Linked DNA regions of Homo sapiens. The protein of the gene in region 2 interacts with the protein of the main gene of each other region in a pairwise test. Each region holds a gene or a part of one and is shown on either strand. Other genes may lie near its edges. The genes, in order: KLHL2, ZNF114 and CLIP4.

Region 1 (7,112 bases), on a different chromosome or scaffold from region 2:
CATCTTTTCAAACATATTTAAAGGAAAGCATATAGACACACATTTATATGCACATAATTTATTATATTCATGTAATCAAAGTTATTTTATAAAAGCAAACAGTGTATCCCTCAACTAGTTTGTATACTTACGTAGATTTTAATATCTGTTCAAAGATTTTCAGTTCCTGGTATACAGATTTTTAGAAGAAATAAAGATAAAATTTAATTTTACAAGAACACACATTACTTCATCCTCCTTCACAAAATAATCTGTAGTCATTCAAGGTTGATAAGAACTAGTCTTTATGAAAGCAACTGTTGTCTAAAGACTACAGATTAAGTCCTGCAGTCCAAGTTTCTTATGAAAATTCAGTCAGCTGCTGCTCATTGCAGAAAAAGCCTACACGGTGCTTCTACCAAAAATAATCTTCAGTATCTGAGGCCTATAAAGGCAGACGATCGTATCTTCTGCTGAGACTTAAAGTGCAGCTACAAGTGGAGAAGTGCTAGATTCTCAGTCACTTCACAAATACTTGTTGAAGGCTGTTTCTCATGTATAAATATGCTGAAAATGTCCTTCAGGCTCATAATGGTTTATCAATAACTGTGACCCCTGAGCAAAGAAATGAAGAGAGAAAAAAGAAGTCACAGGCAGCACTCTGTATCTCTGAGAAAACACTCAATTCTTCATTATAATACGAAGGCAGGAGGAACTGTACAAATCATGTTTCAGAATCTCTTTCTTAAACTTTAGTAGTATTATCATTTGAATCTAAATGACAGTGAAAACTCTGTTTAGTTATGGGCTAGTTAAATATAAGACTATTTAATCCAGAACTAGTCTTTTCCTCTTTGTAGTTACAATTTGGAAAATATACTCAAAAGGGAACACAGAAACTTTTGAGCATGATGGATATGTTCATTATCTTGATTGTGGTGATGGTTTCATGGGTATATACTCTGTCAAAAGTAATAAAATTATATAGTTTAAATATACAGTTGACCCTTGAACCGACATGGGGGTCAGGGGTGCTGACCCTCCACGCAGTCAAAAACCCATGTATAATTTTTTACTCCCGCATAATTTAATTACTAATAGCTTACAGTTGACCAAACGCCTTACTGATACAGTCAATTAACACATATTTTACATGTAATATATGTTATGTATGTCATAACATGTTATGTGTTATATATTGTATTCTTAAAGTAAGCTACAGAAAAGGAAATGTTATTTAAAAAGTCATAAGGAAGAGGAACTATATTTACTATTCATTAAGGGGAAGTGGATCATCATCAAGGTCTTCATCCTTGTCTCTTCACATTGAGCAGGCTGAGGAGGAGGAGAAAGAGGAGAGGTTGGTCTTGTTGTTTCAGGGGTGGCAGAGGCAGAAGAGGTGGAGGAGGTGGAAGGGAAGGCAGGGGAAACAGGAGAGGCAGACACACTTGGTGCAACTTTAAGGAAATACACTGTTAATTCCTGTCTGACTTTTTTGTTTTTTTCATTTCTCTAAAAATGTTTCCACATAATACCAATCGTCTTTCCACTACTTTCTTCAGTTACAGTGCACATATCATAGAAGGGCCCATTTCATAAAGTAAGTCATAAACAGTCTTGAATAACCAAACCCTTTTGCCAGACTGTCTAATGTCAATTTGTTTTCTGACATTGCTTCTACATCTTCTTCATTGTCTGGCAGTGGTTAAGAAGCACTCATCTCCGTCGAGTCATGTTCTGTTAATTTCTCTGGTTTGGTATCTATTAGCTCTTGAATTTCTCCAAGATCCATACCTTGAAACCCTTCACCATCAACCTTTATAGCCACATCCATGATCTCTTTCATGATTTCTTTGACTGGCTCTGTCATAACTCCTGTGAAGTCATACACAACATCTGAACACAGTTTTTTTCCAGCAGGAATTTATTGTTTTGGGTTTGATGACTTTCATAGCTTTTTCTATAACAATGATATATTCAATGGTGTAATCCATCCAGACTTTCATGTTTTCTCTGTTGAGATTCTCTTCCATAGCACTGGCAATTTTTTCCATAGAGTGCCATGTATAATGAAACTTTAAGGTTCCTATGGTCACTGATCTAGAGGCTGAATTAGATACATTGTGTTTAGGGGCAAGTAGACCACTTCTATGCCTTTGGTGTTGAACTCATGGGGTTCTGGGTGGCCAAGGGCACTGTCCAATATCAAAATAAAAAGCAGTCCCTTACTGGCATGGTACTTCCTGAACCTGAAGCATAGATGGAACCAGTCCGGGAAAAGATTTCTTGTCTAGGCCTTCTTGTTATACAGTCAAAAGACTGGCAGCTGGTATTTATATTTTCCCTTCAAGGATTGGGGGTTAGCAACTTTTTAGATAAGAGCAGTCCAAATCATAAACCCAACTGCATTTGCACAAAATAGTAGAGTTAGCTTATCCCTTTCTGCCTTAAATTCTGGTGCTTGCTTATCTTCCTAATAAATGTCCCTGGTGGCACATTTGTCTGCATTAAAAACTTGTTCAGGCAGATATCCATTCTCCTCAACAACTTTCTTCATGGCATCTGGGAGCTCATCTGCTGGCCCCTTGGTTGACAGAAGTGTTCTCCTGTTATCTTGACATTTTTTGAGCCAAACCCCTTTCCAAAATTATCAAGTCATCCTTTGCTTGAGTAGGCTGAGGAAATTCTCCAGCTTTAGATCCTTCACCTTCCTTTTGCTTCAGGTTGTCACATAATGACTTTCCTTTTTCTCAAATCATATTAGAGTTGACAGGTATGCCTTTCTTACAGCAATCCTGCACCCACCAAAAACCAAAACCAAAAAGTCAAAAATAATAAAAATAATAAAAATTTAAAAATTAGCCAGGTGTGGTGGCACATCCCTGTAATCCCAGCTACTCAGGAAGCTGAGGCATGAGAATCGTTTGAATCTGGGAGGCGGAGGTTGCAGTGATCTGAGATCACGCTGTTGCACTCCAGCCTGGGCGACAAGAGTGAGATTCTGTCTCAAAAACAAAAATCCTGCACCCACATAAAAGCTGCATGTTCAACACAAGATAAAAAGGGATTTCACAAAAAGTGTGAAGTTTTCAAAACTGCTGGGATGGCTGCAGGGACGGCTTCATGAATTTCCTTTTTCCTTTTTACAATGATCCCTACCCTGGATTCATTTATTTTGAAATGGTGGGCAAGTGCAGCAGCAGACCTCAATCCATGGTATATCTCAAGCAATTCAGCTTTTTCTTGTAATGTCATGACTCTTCTCTGCTTCGTTGAAGCACTTCCTAGCACCATCACCGGTGGCACTTTGTATGGGTCCCATGGTATTATTCAAGGTTTATGATATTGCAGTAAACATGATGAAAAATAAGGCAGAACCATGAGAGAGAACTTTTTACTGAGATACGCATCGCTGAAGAGACAAACTGCTCTTTCAAAGGTAATTAGCCCCCCACAGCTTTTTAAGTGGATACTCACAACAGCTGAGCTCACCAATACAGCAACAGGAGACGGCTATAAAATTATTATAGTAGTACAGTAACATACTACAGTTAATTTCATGCAGTTATGATTTAATATTGTATCTTTGTGGTTTGTTCACATTTCTCTGGACTGTGAATGACACCATCTATGGTTTGTGGGTGTTTGTTCCCATAAGAGTTTGTGTGCATATGTTTTGATAAATTTTAACTTTTTGTAACAGATTTGTAGATATTTTGTAGTAAATGATAAAACAGACTAGTATCTACGTATATTTTATGTGTTCATAATCTTAAACTTAATTTTTTCAATATTTCTAGGTTATGCAGTGCATCTGAGTTTTTTCAAACTGTTACCAATCTCCAAAAAAATTTTTCCAACATAATTATTGAAAAAAATCCACATGTAAGTGGACATACACAGTTCAAACCTGTGTTGTCCAAGGGTCAACTGTACGCTATGTATTCTGTCAGTTTATACCTCAATGAAGTTGTTTTAAAAATTCATCTAATATTCACCCATGTTATACTGGAATTCTACTGTACATAGTTCTTCTCAGTACTGTTTTGAATGATACATAAGCAACAGTGATGGTTAATGAGCTTAAACATTTTCTTCCTCCACTATTGGATCAATTTTGTTACAGAAACATTATACTATTAAAAGCAAGATAAATATAATTGAAATAAATAACATAAAGACTCACCATAATATTTATTAAAATTAACATTTATCTTACTAAGAGAATGGACCAAAAAATCACATTTTATAACTCAACCAGTACTATGCTTAAGAAAGAAAAATTATTCCACAGCCTCACTATAATACTATCTCATGGAGCCACACCATGGGGAGATGTAGGAATCCTATCCTATTTCTTGGACATCTCAGGAATTAAAGCCTTGCCACATATGAATTCTTCTCCTCTGCATACAGATTTTAGCTACATTAAATTTTATTATATGATTTTGTATATCAAAGATTTGGGATTTTGAATACAAATGACTGTAGAATGACAAAAGTATACTGGTGCTTTATTTCAGAATATACACAGCCAATGTTAATCATCTTAAGAATAAGATATAAACTATACCTTGAGAAAAGACTTTATTCTTATAACAGAAAAACTTCGTTAATATAACATTCATAATGAGGTCATCTTTTTGTACGGAAATTGACTTTAGAGACAACTGTTACCTGCATAACTTCTCCCTGTGCTCATACACGATGACACAACTGTCCATTTATCGGTTGTTGGGTTATAATATTCTACTGACGCCAAGTTACAGGAACCATCATCCCCTCCAACAACATATAACAGACCATTAACTGCACAAACTCCTTTAAAAAATTACAGAGAGAAAACAATTATTTAAAAAATTGGGATGAATATGAGTATCACTGTACATGTTTAGTGAGGTAATCCAGAGACACTAATTTCTTTGAAAGGAGGCAAGAAGAGAAAATAGTGAGCATGAAAAGAATTCGTTTTATATTAGGATAGCCAGGCACCATGGCTCACGCCTGTAATCCCAGCACTTTGGAAGGCCAAGGTGGGCAGATCACTTGAAGTCAGGAGTTCGAGATGAGCCTGGGCAACATGGCAAAACCCCATCTCTACTAAAAATACAAAAATCAGCCAGGCATGGGGGAGTGTGCCTGTGGTCCCAGCTACTCCAAGAGGCTGAAGCCGGAGAATCACTTGAACCCAGGGAGGCAGAGGCTACAGAGAGCCAAGACCACACCACTGCTCTCCAGCCTGGGCAACAGAGTGAGACTCTGTCTCCAAAAAAAAAAAAAAGAATTCTTTCTATATTAGGAGACCATAATACCACTTCTAAGCTCCTACTGAGTGTCATTTATGCAGTAGTTACTTTATATATGCATTATTCTACCTAATTTTCACAACATTATAGGTTAGAAACTATTTTGACCCTCATTTTTTTTTTTTTAATAAAAAGTCAAAGTCAGCTACTTAGGGAATCTTAAGGAAGAAAATATATGTTAGTAGAAGGTAAAAATATTCTTAATTTTAATTATCACACTGAATGGTTAGCTATTTTATCTCCCTTTAAAGAGAACAATATTATTTATCTATTAAAATAACTCTTTTCTTTGCAAAAATTCAAAACATCTAGAAAAGTATTATAAGAAAAAAAGATGACCTCCAACCTTATGTCTCTTAGAATAATGACCATTAAAATTTTGATCTCTACTCTGGCTAACTTTTCTCCATGCATATATACTCAGACACTTTCTTTTTTAACCCCAAAGTAGCTCACACTACACATGCTACTTTATTAAATAACTTACCCACCCTGGCCAACCAACCTACCTTGGACATTTCCTCAAGTTAATAAATATAAATGTAATTTTTATGTATGACAGTTTATTTAATCATTTTTTTACTGATGGATATTTAAGTAATTTTGATTTTTTTGCTGTTACCAATGATGTTGCAATGAACAAAGATCCCCTGAACAGTGTTTTGAATACTTGAGCAATTTTTCTTAATATAAATTATTAGAAGGAAAACTGCTGAGTCTAATGGTAAATGCTTTTAAAAAGCTATTTCAATGTAATTTTTTAAAAGTACATTTAATTTCTTATAAAAAGTTCAGTGCTACTATGAACTTATACTAGAGGGCATCAAAGAATCCCGAATAATGCTGCCCAAATCTACAAAACTTTGTAGGAAAAAAACTCATACCATTTTAAAGTTGTTCAAATACTTAAAAGCAAGAATCAAATGCTGCTGCCACACAAGCTCCACACAGTAGTTACATGTGTATGCAACACTGTATTTCAGCCTATTGATGGACAACATAGGACTGTGAGAGAAAAAATGATCTCAAAAATGGCCCTGCTATGATGGAAGGCATGAACAAGGAGACTATATTGTTCTAAAGAGTTTTCCCAATCATATCTATGAGGGGCTCACAGATTAAAGAGCATCCCACTGCAGAAAGGGAGGTTGGTCCATACATCCATTTGAATATCTTAGCTATACATTCAGAAGACATCAATTTTACTAACCCACTAACTCACAACACCAGATTCCTTTTAGGCGATAGGAGCCAAATCACTTTGCCAAAAGGATGCACCTTCCTGCAGTGTTTGATGGTTCCAGTTTATTCAGTTTACTTCAACACAATCAAATTCATATTGAGAACCTATTACAGATGTGCTAGGTATTAAAGGTCTATATATAATCATCTAATTCAAATTTATTTCATTTTTACTCCACTCTTGGTGTCATAATTTACCATACTTATGAAAACTTTTGAAATCTGGCTTGTAAGCTGCTTGCTATTTCAAATTTATATGGATGCTTTCACCTCTCCCCGCTTAACATTGAATACATGTCCTCCACTCTTTGCCAGCTTAGTTCTTTCTTTCCAATAATTTAGGTGCTTGGATGAGGTCCTTAGCCTAGGTTATTAAAAAGGAAGAGCTGAACAGATCTTATCAGAAGTTTGTTTCAGATTATCAGGAATATGGAATGAGGGTGAGATTTTAAAATACTCTTATGAACTTAAATAATTTTAAAATATATGCTCAATTGGATTATACTGTATCTTGTAAATTATAGAAGTAAATAATTCAAATTTTGTTATTTGCATAGAAAATAAACATCATTGATTGAGAAGGAA
Region 2 (7,112 bases):
CAGGCTGGTTTTGAACTCCTGGCCTCAAATGATTCTCCTGTCTCACCCTCCCAAAGTCCTGGAATTACAGGCTTGAGCCACTGCACCCCACCAAAGACACTTTCAGCTCCTTTCTTAGTGTGCTTTGCAGCAGAACGTGAAGCCCACTGGCAGCCAGGATGAGGTGTGGAAAGGACCAGTCAGTACTGGGGTGGGGGTGGTCCCAGGAGAATCCCCAGGGCAGCATCTCTCTCCAAGCAGAGGTGCAGAGACCTAGGGCAGCACGGCTGGCGGGGGGCCCTGCCTGGCTCCATGTGCTTTACCTGACTCCCAGCCACAGGCAGAGGCACATTGACTCGTGGGAACGACAACACGCTTCTGGGAGAGGGTGAGCTGCCAACTTACCTGGGACATATTTGTCACCAACGTGACGGCCAGTCCTGGCTTCCCCGTGTTTCCTTCAAGGAGGCAGGTGAGGCAGAGCTTGGGAGAAGAATGGAGCTATGAGAATCCAGGCACCCTGCCTTCCCCACACTCGTATGTGGATCCTGCCTGACATTAATCTCAGCATATAAATGCACGTGTGCACACACTTCCCCACCACAGCCCACAACCCCCACCCCCTCTACACCCACCCACCCACACACCCACACACCCCCATCCCCTCACTCCAACCCCCTTACGCCCACCCACCCACACACCCCATCCCCCCACCCACACACACACTCACACACACACCCACACACCCCCATCCCCCCACCCCCGCCCCCCACACAGACACCCACACACACACCTATATTTTAATTTAATTTTTTAGAGACAGAGACTTGTCCTGTTGCCCAGGCTGGAGTGCAGTAGTGCAATCATGGCTCACTACAGCCTCAAACTTCTGGGCTCAAGTGATCCTCCTGCCTCAGCCTCCTGAGTAGCTGAAGGTACAGGCATGGGCCCCCATGCCTCCTAATTTTTCATATTTATTTTCATAGAGATGGGGTCTCACTATGTTGCCTAGGCTGGTCTCAAATTCCTGGCCTCAAGCAGCATTTTTTTTTAATCGAGGTGAAATTTGCATATCATGAAGTTAACCATTTTAAGTGAACAATGCAGTGGCATTTAGTGCATTTGCAATGTTGTACAAACGTCACCTCTACCTAGTTCCAAATACTTTTCATCACCGCAAAATAAAACCCCATCCCCCTTAGCAGTCACTTCCCATTCTCCCCTTCACCCAGCTGCTGGCAGCCGCTAATCTAATTGCAATTTTTTTTTTTGAGACGGAGTCTCACTCTGTTGCCCAGGCTGGAGTGCAGTAGCACGATCTCAGCTCACTGCAGCTTCCGCCTCCCTGGTTCAAGTGATTCTCCTGTCTCAGCCTCCCGATTAGATGCCATTACAGGTGCCTGCCATCACACCTGGCTAATTTTTTGTACTTTTAGTAGAGATGGGATTTCGCCATGCTGGCCAGGCTGGTCTCGAACTCCTGACCTCAAGTGATCCGCCCGCCTCGCCCTCCCAAAGTGCTGGAATTAGGGGTGTGAGCACCGCACCTGGCCCATAGCGGTATTCATTACAGCCCAAAGTAGAGACAACCCAATACTGATCAATGCATGAACAAAGAAAGCAAACGTGGTCTATCCGCACCATGGAATATTACCCAGCCATAAAACGGACTGAGGCACTGACACACACTACAACCCAGTGAGCTCTGAAAACAGGATGCTGAGTGAACGAAGCCAGACACAAAAGACCACAGTGTATGACCCCATTGAAAATGAAATGTCCAGAATAGGCGAATCTATAGAGACAGAAAGCAGATCAGAGGTTGTCCAGGGCTGGGGGAGATGAGGGACTGGGAGATGACCACTGAAGGATACAGGGCTTCTTTCAGGGGTGATGGAAATGTTCTAAATTTGAGGGACGTACACGTCTGTGAATATACTAAAAGCCATTGAATTGCACCCTTTAAGAAGGTGAATTGGGCCGGGCGCGTTGGCTCAAGCCTGTAATCCCAAGACTCTGGGAGGCCGAGGCAGGTGGATCACTTGAGGTCAGGAGTTTGAGACCATCCTGGCCAACATGGCGAAACCCTGTCTCTACTAAAAATACAAAAATTAACCGGGCGTGGTGGCGCACACCTGTAATCCCAGCTACTTGGGAGGCTGAAGGCAGGAGAATCACTTGAATCTGGGAGGTGGAGGTTGCAGTGAGCTGAGATCGCACCACTGCACACCCCAGCATGGGCAACAGAGCGAGACTCTGTCTCAAAAAAAAAAATTTCAAATATAAGATGAAAAGTGTTCATGTTACTGGGAAGTCAGATTTTTAGTGTAAGAGGAAAAAGTTTCAAATATAAGATGAAAAGGCTTCATATCGTCACGAACACACACACACACACACACACACACACACACACACACACCCAATGCCTCCCTGGTCAGTCTATTCATAGAAAATGCTTAGAAGAATTAAGAAGCAGGAGGCAATGAACACCCTCGGAAACATGGCTGATCTGGGAACAGAAAATTCCCAGTGTGAGCCTTGCGGTGCCAGATGGCAGGGGAGCTGCCCTAGACCGCGTTAGGAGGATGCACAGCGGCTGGAAACGTCTCCCAGCGGCCGGATTTGAACTACAAAGTGAATCATTGCAATTGATGGAAACACACTGAACACTAAAAATACCTGCGCTCATAATGATACCCAGACAGAGAAAACCAGAGGGGGAAAAAAACACAAGCCTTGGTTAATAAAGAGGAAAAATTAAGCCTTTACTTTGCCTTTCCAATAAGAAAAGAAACGGAATAGCCTTACGGATGACGGAAAACTACAGAATTCCAGCTACATATTCATTTTTTTATTTTTATTTTTTGACACAAGGTCTCATTCTGTCATCCAGGTTGGAGTGCAGTGGGGAGATCTCGGCTCACAGCAGCCTCTGCCTCCTGAGTTCAAGTGATTCTCCTGCCTCAGCTTCCCAAGTAGCTGGGACCACAAGCGCCTGCCACCACGCCCAGCTAATATAACAAAAATATATATATTAAAAAAAATTTTTTTTTGAGACAGGGTCTCATTCTGTCGCCCAGGCCGGAGTGCAGTGGCACGATCTCAGCTCGCTGCAACTTCCACCTCCTGGGTTCAAGCAATTCTCCTGCCTCAGCAGCCTCCTGAGTAGCTGAGATTACAGGCTTGGGCCACCACGCCCAGCTAATTTTTGTATTTTTAGTAGAGACGGGGTTTCACTATGTTGGCCAGGCTTGTCTCAACTTCTGACCTCAGGTGATCCGCCTGCCTCGACCTCTCAAAGTGCTGGGATTACAGGCGTGAGCCACCACGCCCAGTCCCAGCTACATGTTTAGTTGGGACAATTGAATATTTTTAAAAATCACCATTTTGGGCTGGGCTGGGTGGTTCACACCTATAATCCCAGCATGTTGGGAGGCTGAGGCAGGAGGATCACTTGAGCCCAGGATTTTGATACCACCCTGGGCAACATAGCGAGGCCCCATCTCTACAAAAAATTTAAAAATTAGGTGGGCACGCTGGCGTGCGCCTCTAGTCTCAGCTACTCAGGAGGTTGTGGGGTGGGAAGATCATTTGAGCCCAGGAGGTTGATGCTGCAGTGAACTATGATTGCACTACTGCACTCCAACTTGGGTGACAGAATGAGGCCCTATCTCAACAAAAAAAAATCATCATTTTGCAACCTTAATAAAACAACTGATTCAGGAAATAAGACACGTCGGTGGACACAGAAAGGGGAGGCAGTCATTAGCAGGGTACGGAGGCATCACTCAGGACTTGCTGGGCGTAAAGGAATGCAACTTTCAGAGGTAAGGCTCTGCAGGTGCAGTGGCCTAAGGCTGTAATCCCAGTATTCTGGGAGGCTGAGGCAGGCAGATCACCTGAGGTAGGGAGTTTGAGACCAGCCTGACCAACATGGAGAAACCCCGTCTCTACTAAAAATACAAAATTAGCCGGGTGTGGTGGCACACGCCTGTAATCCCAGCTACTCGGGAGGCTGAAGCAGGAGAATCACTTGAACCTGGGAGGCGGAGGTTGCGGTGAGCCGAGATTGCACCACTGCACTCCAGCCTGGGCAACAAGAGCGAAACTCCATCTCAAAAAAAAAAAAAAAAAAAAAAGAGGTAAGAGGCTCTCTCACCTCCAGAAACTACCCCACCAATGTTAGCTTGACTTGTACAGGGACAAACAGCCATTATAGCTTTTTTTTTTTTGAGATGGAGTCTCACTCTGTCACCCGGGCTGGAGTGCAGTGGTGCGATCTCAGCTCACTGCAAGCTCTGCCTCCCGGGTTCACCCCATTCTCCTGCCTCAGCCTCCCCAGTAGCTGGGACTACAGGCGCCCGCCACTGCGCCCTGCTAATTTTTTGTATTTTTAGTAGAGACGGGGTTTCACCGTGGTCTCGATCTCCTGACCTCGTGATCTGCCTGCCTCGGCCTCCCAAAGGGCTGGGATTACAGGAGTGAGCCACCGCGCCCGGCAACAAACAGCCATTATAGTTACACTGATGTGATGAACACACCACCTACGATGTATCTTTCATTTTTATTTTGTTTAAATTTTTCTTTGTTATTATATATGTTTCAAGACAAGGTCTCGCTCTATCACCCAGGCTGGAGTGCAGTGGCACTAGCTTGGCTCACTGCAACCTCTGCTTTCTGGGTTCAAGAGATTCTCCTGTCTTAGCCTCCCAAGTAGCTGGGAGTACAGGCGACCACCACCACGCCTGGCTATTTTGTGTGTGTGTGTGTGTGTGTGTGTGTGTGTGTGTGTGTTTTAGTAGAGACAGGACTTCATCATGTTGGCCAGGCTGGTCTTGAACTCCTGACCTCAGGCGATCATCCTGCCTCAGCCTCCCAAAGTGCTGGGATTAAAGCCACGAAGCCTGACCAACCTAGGATGTTTCTGTCTCCCTCCCTCCCTCCCTTCCTCTCTCTTTTTCCCTCCCTCCCTCCCTCCCTTCCTTCCTTCCCTCTCTCTTTCTCTCTTCCTCTCTCTTTTTCTCTCTCTCTTTCTCTCTTCCTCTCTCTCTTTCTCTCTTTCTTTCTTTTTTGAGACAGGGTCTCACTCTGCTGCCCTGGCTGGAGTGCAGTGGTGTGATCAGAGCTCACTGTAGCCTTGACCTCCTGGGGTCAAGCAGTCCTCCCACCTCAGCCTCCCAAAGTGCTGGGATCACAGGCGTGAGTCACCGTGCCTGGCCAGGTCTAACTTTCAACGACACAAGGAACAACCACACAAATGCACAGGCGTGGACGTTCTGCCATTCTGACTACCCAGGGACTCCAACTAGTAAATGTCATGAACAAAGGGAGGCAAGTTCGAGGGTGTGAGCCCTGGAAGAGAAACGCACACAATGTGTTTGCATCCTGCCTAAAGAAACATAACTCTAGGCCAGGCGTGGTGGCTCACGCCTGTAATCCCAGCACTTTGGGAGGCCGAGGCGGGCAGATCACCTGAGGTTGGGAGTTCGAGGTCAGCCTGACCAACATGGAGAAACCCCATCACTACTAAAAATGCAAAATTAGCCCGGCATGGTGGCACATGCCTGTAATCCCAGCTACTAGAGAGGTTGAGGCAGGAGAATTACTTGAACCTGGAAGGCAGAGGTTGCGGTGAGACGAGATTGCACCACTGCACTCCAGCCTGGATAACAAGAGAAAAACTCTGTCTCAAAAAAAAAAAAAAAAATATATATATATATATATATATATAAAAGTTTTTTTCTATTAAAACAAAACAAAAACAAACCCCCAAAACTCTTCCTGCTCCAAATGTGACATCTGATGACCGTTTAATGACTGTGGTCAACTTAAATAGTATAAGATGAGTCATTTGTTCATAAAATGTTAGAATGCCATAAAATCTACAACTTACATGATATTTGGAAGAAACTTGATGGCAAGTTCCCTCAATTTGAGGACAAATCTAAACGTTTACATGACACTGTCAGCAATGAATTGCGGACTCAAAACTTTTCTAAACCATTAATAATTTAAAAATTAAATTAATCATATGAGAAAAAGCTGAATTTATATATAGACACTCACACATAAATATATGTGTGTATATATTTATATATATGTGTGTGTGTATGCATTTATATATATACATGTATAAAAATATATATACATATATATTGGCCAGGCACGGTGGCTCACGCCTGTAATCCCAGCACCTTGGGAGGCCGAGGTGGGCGGATCACGAGGTCAAGAGATCAAGATCATCCCGGCTAACACGGTGAAACCCCGTCTCTACTAAAAATACAAAAAATTAGCCGGGCGTGGTGGCGGGCGCCTGTAGTCCCAGCTACTCGGGAGCCTGAGGCAGGAGAATGGCGAGAACCCGGGAGGAGGAGCTTGCAGTGAGCCGAGATAACGCCACTGCACTCCAGCCTGGGCGACAGAGCGAGACTCCGTCTCAAAAAAAAAAAAAAAAAAGAAAAGCCCCACTGTTGCCTGGGGGATCCAAGTCACTTTGACACAGAAGCAAGCCTGTGCAACTCAGGGGCTGAGCTGTAAATAAGAGTTTTTGAGACACAACATTCCACGTCTATCTTGACCTTATAGTTCCCAAGGAAACAGCCACACCTGATGATAACCCCATTACACGCATCTCAGCTGTAAGCCTACCTAAGAAGATAAAACCGCCTATTTCAATTTAAGTTTCCCTGAATTCCGTCCTTTCCCCAATACAATTGGAGCGCCGGTTCTGACCCTAGTAACCTCAGACACATCAGCTCAGGACAGTAGTTTAAAAAAAAAAAAAACAGAAAAGAAAAGAAAAAGAAAAACAACGCATCATTGTGAGTCAGCTCAGGTGAGCAGGCTGAGGTTGGCTTTTGCCTGATTGTCCATGACGAAGATATACCTGGCTGATGAAACACATTCCCACCTTTGCCCTGAGTTCCAGTAAATCAGACCTCACCGGAGCGGATTAGTGATAAAAATGCATCTTGTTCCGACCGTGGGGTTTGATCCTGACACCTTCACACCACTCTCCTTGCAGCTTGTCCTTTTTATATATTTCCTCTGCTGAGGTCTCAGTTCCCATAAAAGACCATGTTCAGCACACGGAACTCAAACCCTCAAAGCTCTTTATCTGGCCAGGCGCTGTG
Region 3 (7,112 bases), on a different chromosome or scaffold from region 2:
TTGAGGCGGCCAGAGGTCACAGGGCAGAATACAGCAGAGATGGATGCACACACTCCAAGAGAAACCCAGAGACCTGTGCAGGGTCCTCCTCAACTATTCATCATATGCTTGTGAGGAAATACTTGAAGTAAGGGAAAGAACCATCCATAAGGACTACAGGGATTAGTGCCTATTCTCACAAGGAAGATTGAAAAAGAATCCTCATAATTCACACAGCATTGAGTAGAACAGCAGTCCCCAATCTTTCTGGCACCAGGGGCCGGGGTAGGGGGACCAGTACCAGTCCGTAGCCAGGGGGTTCAGGGCCCCTGGAGTGGAATTCTCAGTAGTAGGGAACAATTAGCCCCAGGCCAAGAATGGCTCCAGACCCACCTAACAAATCAGAAAAGTAGGACCTCAAAGGGTCCAACTATTTCCAAGTAACTAAACTGTATCCCAGAACAAAGTTCAAGAATACTTACAGGAATACAAAAATATCCAGCATCTAACAAGGTAAAATTCACAATGTCTGGCAGCCAATTAAAGATTATCAGGCAAGCAAAGAAAGAAGAAAACATGACCCATAATCAGGGGAATAATAGACCTAGAGTTGACATGGATATTATAATTAACAGAGAAGGACATTAAAACAGTCAATATAACTCTATTCCAAATGTTCAAAGGTGGAGAAGAGACCTGGGCATAAAAAAGAGCCAAAGCAAACTTTAGAGATGAAAACTTCATCTGAAATGAAAACTGCACTGGAAAAAATCAGCAGCTAATTAATTAGACACTGCAGAAGGAAAGATTAATGAACTTGAAGATGCAGTAATATAAACTATCCAAAATAAAGAGAAAAAAATGTTTAAATATAAAATAAATCAGTGAGTTATGGGACAACTTCAAGCAGTCTATAATATACATGCAATTACAGTATCTGAAAACGGGGAGAAGCAGACAAAAAATTTTTTTAAATGATTTCCCAAACTTAATGAAAACTGAAACTCAGATCCAAGCAGCTCAACCAAACCCAAGCACAAGAACATACAGAAAACAATACCTAAGCACATAATAGTAAAATTGCTCAAAATAAAAACTCTTTAAAGCAGCCAAAAAAAAGACATTACATCTAGAGAAACAAAAATGACAGCAGAAACAATGCAAATGGGAAGAGAGCAGAGCAAGATCTTTCAAGTACTGAAAGAAAACTACCAACCTATAATTCTAAACCCAGCAAACACATTTTTCAAAAAAATAAGGTAAATAAAGATGTTTTCAGACATAAAACAGCTGAAAGAATTCATCACTGGCAGACCAGCACCATAAGAAACATTACAGGAAGTGCTTCAGGCGGAAGGAAATGGTATCAGATGGAAATCTGGACCTACACTCACAAAGGAATGAAGAGCACTAGAAATGGTAACTACATGGGTAAATGAGATTTTTTTATATTATTTAAATTTAACAGATAATTCAATGTTTAAGCAAAATATATAATAAGGTATTTTGGTATTTATAATGTATATAATGTGTATTCTGCATGAACTGATTCTGAAGGCATTTCAAAGCAAAAGATTCCAAAAATTGTTATGCAAGAACAGTACATAGTTTCACAGGGTAATCACCTTGAGAGTCAACACTGAGTCACATGCCTCAACTCTGGTTTCTGTGGACTGGTTTCTTTTTGTTTCTTTGTTTTACACTCATTAGTTGGTATTATATAAAAATTCCCTATGGGGGCCTACATGACCCCGCATGACCTGGCCGGTGTCTTACTCTCCAATTCCTTCTCCTCCCACTCTGCCATCAATCACTTTGCTTCTCAGCCACAAAGACCTTCCATTAATTCTTAGGATATACCAAGGTCTTCCCTCAACACTGTGCCTTTAGTTTTCTGTTTTCCTTCCTGGAACACTTCTTCCCAGGCTCTTCTCACAGCCAGCCTCTTCTGATTCTCCGAATGACCACCCCATCTAAAGCAGCTGCCTTGCCCCCATTGTTCTCTATCACAGCACCCTGTTTCTTTCTTCCACAGAATTCATTATGACCTATTTTTGCTTTGTCTATTCATTTGTTTGTTTACTGGTCTTCCCTATAGAAGACCTGTCTTGGTCACTGATATCTCCAGCATCCAGGACAGTCCCTAGCACACAAGAGGCCCTCAATAAATACTTGCTCAATAAATGCAATTATATATGCCGCTTTTCAAGGGGAGACTGACCACAGTGTACCAAGAAAGCAGCTACGATGAAAAGGGTCTAGAAATCCTGACAATGAGAAACTGGTGAAGGAAACAGAAATGTGTAGCCTAAGGAGTTTCAGGCTAAGTTAAAATGTTCAAACTATCTGCAGATACTTAAAGGCTATCCTATAAAGGAATTTGTGCCATGTATCAAACTAGAATCACTTGGCCAAAATTTCAGGGAGACCAATTTTGAGTCAACATACGAAAACAATTTTATTACAACTAAAGCTTTTTAACAATAAAATTAACTATTTTGTTAGTTTCCCACTATTGAAGACATGCAAGAGGTTAAATGGTTATCTGACAGAGATCCTGAAAATATGATGTCTACACAGGGAGGTGAGTGGGGAAAGGTTCATAAGAGTCTACAAAAACCTATAATTCTAAGACTACAATGCTTTTTTTTTTTTTTTTTTTTTTTTGGAGACAAAGTCTCACTCTGTGGCCCAGGCTGGAGTGCAGTGATGCGATCTCAGCTCACTGCAACCTCTGCCTCCTGGTTCAAGTGATTCTCCTGCCTCAGCCTCCTGAGTAGCTGACAATATAGGCGCACACCACCATGCCTGGCTAATTTTTGTATTTTTAGTAGAGACGGGGTTTCAACGTTTAATTCCAGTTATGCAAAATGTCAATATCCATTATTACCTTTCATTCAATGTATTTATTCAACAATCATTGAGCAACTAATAACAAATGACTATATTAGCCTTTTTGAGATAAACAAAAATAAAATGATTGTTCTCCATCCCAAAGCGCTACAATATAGGAAAGAAAATAAGACAATTAGAAGTCAAGATGGAGTGAGACAAGTATCATACCTAAGGTACAATGCACAAGGTTCAAGGTTTCCCCTGCATAACTGATTTTGTTATATCTGAAAATAAGCCCAGTTGATTACTGCAAAACCTGCAGATAACTCCCAAGATCAAGGCACAGGTTTTATATAATACTTCTGACGACTGGTCTAGGTAAGCTGCTAAAGAATCTGAATACAAAAAAAAAAAAAAAGAAACTTGGAGATGAGGAATTACTATACTACAACGAATATGACTAAAAAGACAAATTCTCAGTCCAATAACTTTATATCTACTAATATCTACTAATATGTAAAAATTGTATGATCTCTACCTCCAAAAACAATTTGAAATGGTGAACCAACATTTTACTTGAAAAACTCTAAACTGGAAATTTAACAATTCTATCAAATTTATCTCCTGGTTCCCTTTTATTATGGTTCTGGAGAAATAAGCCTAAATAGATGAGAAGTGGAATGCTTCTAAATTAACATTTTACAGAGGAGATGTAAATGGACCAATTTAAACATTAACCAATCTCATTTCACATTCCAGGGAAGGGTCTCTTACCCTCTTTGCCTAAGTACATGGCTTTTTTAGCAAGTCAGTATATTTAACCAAAATAAATACATCAATAGCAGAAGAATGCTAGATATCTAAGCACCATTGCTTTCTAAAAATAAAGTCCTCTAAATCCATCATGATGCTTAAAATGAACATTTTAACATAATATAAATGCTGACAGCAGAAATAAAGCATTTAGCTTAAGAAGCAGAAAAAGCAATAAGCAATTGTATTTTTGAAAAAGGAAAACTTTAGCAATTTTATGAAAACCATAAAAATGGTTCTAAGAAAGACTATGAGTGCAAAAAAGGCGTAACAGAGAAGTCAAGTTACCAGTTCACAGAAAATAAGCACAGCTACTTCACATACCACAGTCTGAAGGCATTGGTGCTGCAGAAATGGAAAAGATAACTGGGGTATCAGAAGCAGAAAATATAAATGGGTATCTTCCAAACAAAGGATTTCCTTCTAATGGAAAATCTGGAAGGTCCTCTATGGTCATCTTCTAGAAAGCCACCTATAATAAGAAAGAAAAAAAAAGTGTTTCTACTTTATTTGTATGCAACTTAGAATGACTGCCTTCAATAACTGCCTAAAAGTTATTTGACGTCAAATCTGCTGACATTTTCAGTAAGGATCTTTTATGAAAGGGAAAAAATTCCTTTTGGCAAAACTGTTGTTAAAAGGCATACATTGCTTCACACCACCTCTTATACCAGTCGGTAGCACATGTAATCTCTCTAGACAAAGCTCAAAAGGAATATAAAATAGGTGAAAACACTTTAAATGCTGAGCTAATCTAAATGGGTGAAATCCTCCTACTCATGTAACAAACAAGGGCGTATTAACCCTTGTAGATGGATCTTTAACTTCCCATAACACTGGCACAAGTTACATCATTTGTCATCCAATAGCTCATGCCATGTGCTCATCACATGAAGATAATCTACCTTAAAATGTTTCCATTATTTTCTATCCCAGAAAACTTTACTGAAAATTAATCATATCCCTCTTACAAATCTAAGAGTTTACTAAGATTGTTCAACTTAACAAGGTCCGAGGTATGTGAGTTCTATCCTGGCCAAAGATGGAAGCCATGCCTTTTAAAGCACATGGCTTATATTACCTCTTTTTCCCAGAAAACATGAGTGCTTAGAATAAATTTGCTCTAAATTAGACTTTGTACTACACCCTAGCCTACATCTCAGAAATGATGTAGAAAGCAGAGAAACTGCTAGTAAAACCAAACTTATGAAGCTAAAAGCCTTCCAGTTTCTTTTGTATCCGATCTTTACTATCTGAAGTATCATGAATTCCTGTTTTTAAAATGTAAGCAAAACATTATAAAACTAAATGAAAAATGAGTTTAGATTATTTCAGTAGAAAGCACAGAATAAAAATAGGTAATCAATGGCTTGATCTGGTAGTAGACAACACCATACTAGCTACTACTTAATGTGTGCTCTGTTCTACTTAACCAACCCTATATCTAACTCAATTATCCTTACCATCAGTTCCCCACTACAATAAAACAGTCATTTCATTGAGCTCACTGTTGTCTTCCTAACTTGATTCATGTTTTCTTAATACTGGCAGGAACTGGTAAAAAGTAGGAGGCTTTCTTTTTCCTCAAAAATCGTATGCTTATATGGATATAGATGTTATATATTAGGTAACCTAATCCAGTTGTTACTATTTTAAGGTATTCACATTTTCTTGGATGCTAAAATTACTTACCACCAAATACTTAGAAGCATTTTGACATTAACCTTGCCACATAAATAGGAAAATGACAAGTTCATGGAATTAGTGTTATAGAGCAGCGGTGATCTTCCTCAAATACTATCAATTCCAAACAGTAATGAGTATTTATTAAGGAACCACTATATACAAGACACTATTCTAGATGTTTCAGCAAATACAAAAATGAGTTAACAGATGGTCCATGCTTCTTAGGTAGTTTACAATCTATTAAGGTGAATAAAATACCACTAATAACTATAGATTATGAGGCAGAATGGGATCTGCTCCATCACATAAGTACCAGGAACATTTGCAGTTGGAGCTTCTAAGAATCATAAATGGTGAAGAAGGTATCATCTGTGATGAGTCTTGAATGATGAATAGGTATCAATATAAAAGGGGATCCCATTAAAAGAACAGTAGGCTGGAACTTGGGATATGACTAGGAAAACAGTCAGAGGTGAGGCTGTAAGGGCTTTTTAGGGCTGTACTGAGGAGCAAATACCTCATCAAAGACCAAACCACTTACTTTCATGAGCACTGGGAAACTACTGATTTTTTTAAAGAGAGTAACATGATTAAAGCTGTTTTAGGAAAATTAATCTGACTATAATCACGGTTTGGGACTCAGACATGTTTTTATACTCTTAATTCTTCAGCAAAAAGATTCAGTGGATATCTGTCTGAGTCGGTTAAGAGGAGTCACCACATGACTTCCCTTTCAAAGGGTGGAGTCTCCCATTCAAAAAAAAAAATTTTAAGTGATCCCCAGAGCACCTTTCATTTCCTTGTAAACTGTTGAGATCCTCAAAGATACGAACTCTATCGTACACAACTAGCAGTCACCACAGGAGCTAGAATAGTGTGTTACACATATTTAACTAATATTCAAAGCTTAGATTCAAAGTGGAAAGAGGATTCATGCAATCAGATGTAACCAGCTTCATTCTTTTACATATTAGATACTTCAAGTCCAGAAGAAGCTACAATATTACCTGACCAATGCAGTGAACATTCTTTGTATTTTGTCTTTGTTGCGTTTTTCTCTAGTTACATTTCCTTATTTTCGTGAAAAACTTAACATTCTACCTTTTGTCCTCCCAAAGGAAACTATGTACCCCTATAAACTTCCTTATAGTCTCAGATTCATTTCCTAAAAGCAATTCCTGGATCTGAAGACCTACAACACCTGGACTCTTGGTCAAATGTCTAAGTATACTGATCTGAACTGAGTACACACTTTCATTCCAAATCCAACTATGGTTAACTGGTGATAACTGATTATAAAGTAAGCCTCAGGTTAAAAATATATATATATATATTGGCCCTGCCAGGCATGGTGGCTCACACCTGTAATCCCAGCACTTTCGGAGGCCATGGCAGGTGGATCACCCAAGGTCAGGCATTCGAGACCAGCCTGACCAACATGGCAAAACCCCATCTCTACTAAAAATACAAAAAATTCGCTGGGCATGGTGGAGGGCACCTGTAATCCCAGCTACTCAGGAGGCTGAGGCAGAAGAATCGCTTGAACCTGGGAGGCAGAGATTGCGGTAAGCCGAGATCCCGCCACTGCAGTCCAGCCTGGGCAAGAAGAGCGAAACTCCATCTCAAAAAAAAAAAAAAAAAATTGGCACTAATCAACTGTCTACAGAACAGGTGCCTCTGATACTAACAATAGCTAGAATCAAATTCCCCAAACTCTGATTTCTATAGGAATTTCACCCTACTCATCACTCCAAGTTAGCTGTTAGCAAAAGCATCTTACATAACGTGGCTCAAATACC

What was found.
Region 1: the proteins of ZNF114 (region 2) and KLHL2 interact in binary tests that used the Homo sapiens proteins (3 or more experiments, as listed by UniProt).
Region 3: the proteins of ZNF114 (region 2) and CLIP4 interact in binary tests that used the Homo sapiens proteins (3 or more experiments, as listed by UniProt).

What each region holds. Positions count from the first base shown.
Region 1 is NC_000004.12:165,315,514-165,322,625, reverse strand, and holds part of KLHL2 (kelch-like protein 2), read right to left. Parts: intron 4,801-7,112; coding exon 4,657-4,800; intron 1,315-4,656; coding exon of another isoform or gene 1,301-1,314; exon of another isoform or gene 1,275-1,300; intron 595-1,274; coding exon 566-594; 3' UTR 1-565. UniProt on the Homo sapiens protein: Substrate-specific adapter of a BCR (BTB-CUL3-RBX1) E3 ubiquitin ligase complex that mediates the ubiquitination of target proteins, such as NPTXR, WNK1, WNK3 and WNK4, leading most often to their proteasomal degradation.
Region 2 is NC_000019.10:48,273,081-48,280,192, reverse strand, and holds part of ZNF114 (zinc finger protein 114), read right to left. Parts: intron 5,642-7,112; exon of another isoform or gene 5,544-5,641; intron 463-5,543; 5' UTR 394-462; coding exon 385-393; intron 1-384. UniProt on the Homo sapiens protein: May be involved in transcriptional regulation.
Region 3 is NC_000002.12:29,118,361-29,125,472, reverse strand, and holds part of CLIP4 (CAP-Gly domain-containing linker protein 4), read right to left. Parts: exon of another isoform or gene 7,112-7,112; intron 4,100-7,111; 5' UTR 4,085-4,099; coding exon 3,952-4,084; intron 1-3,951.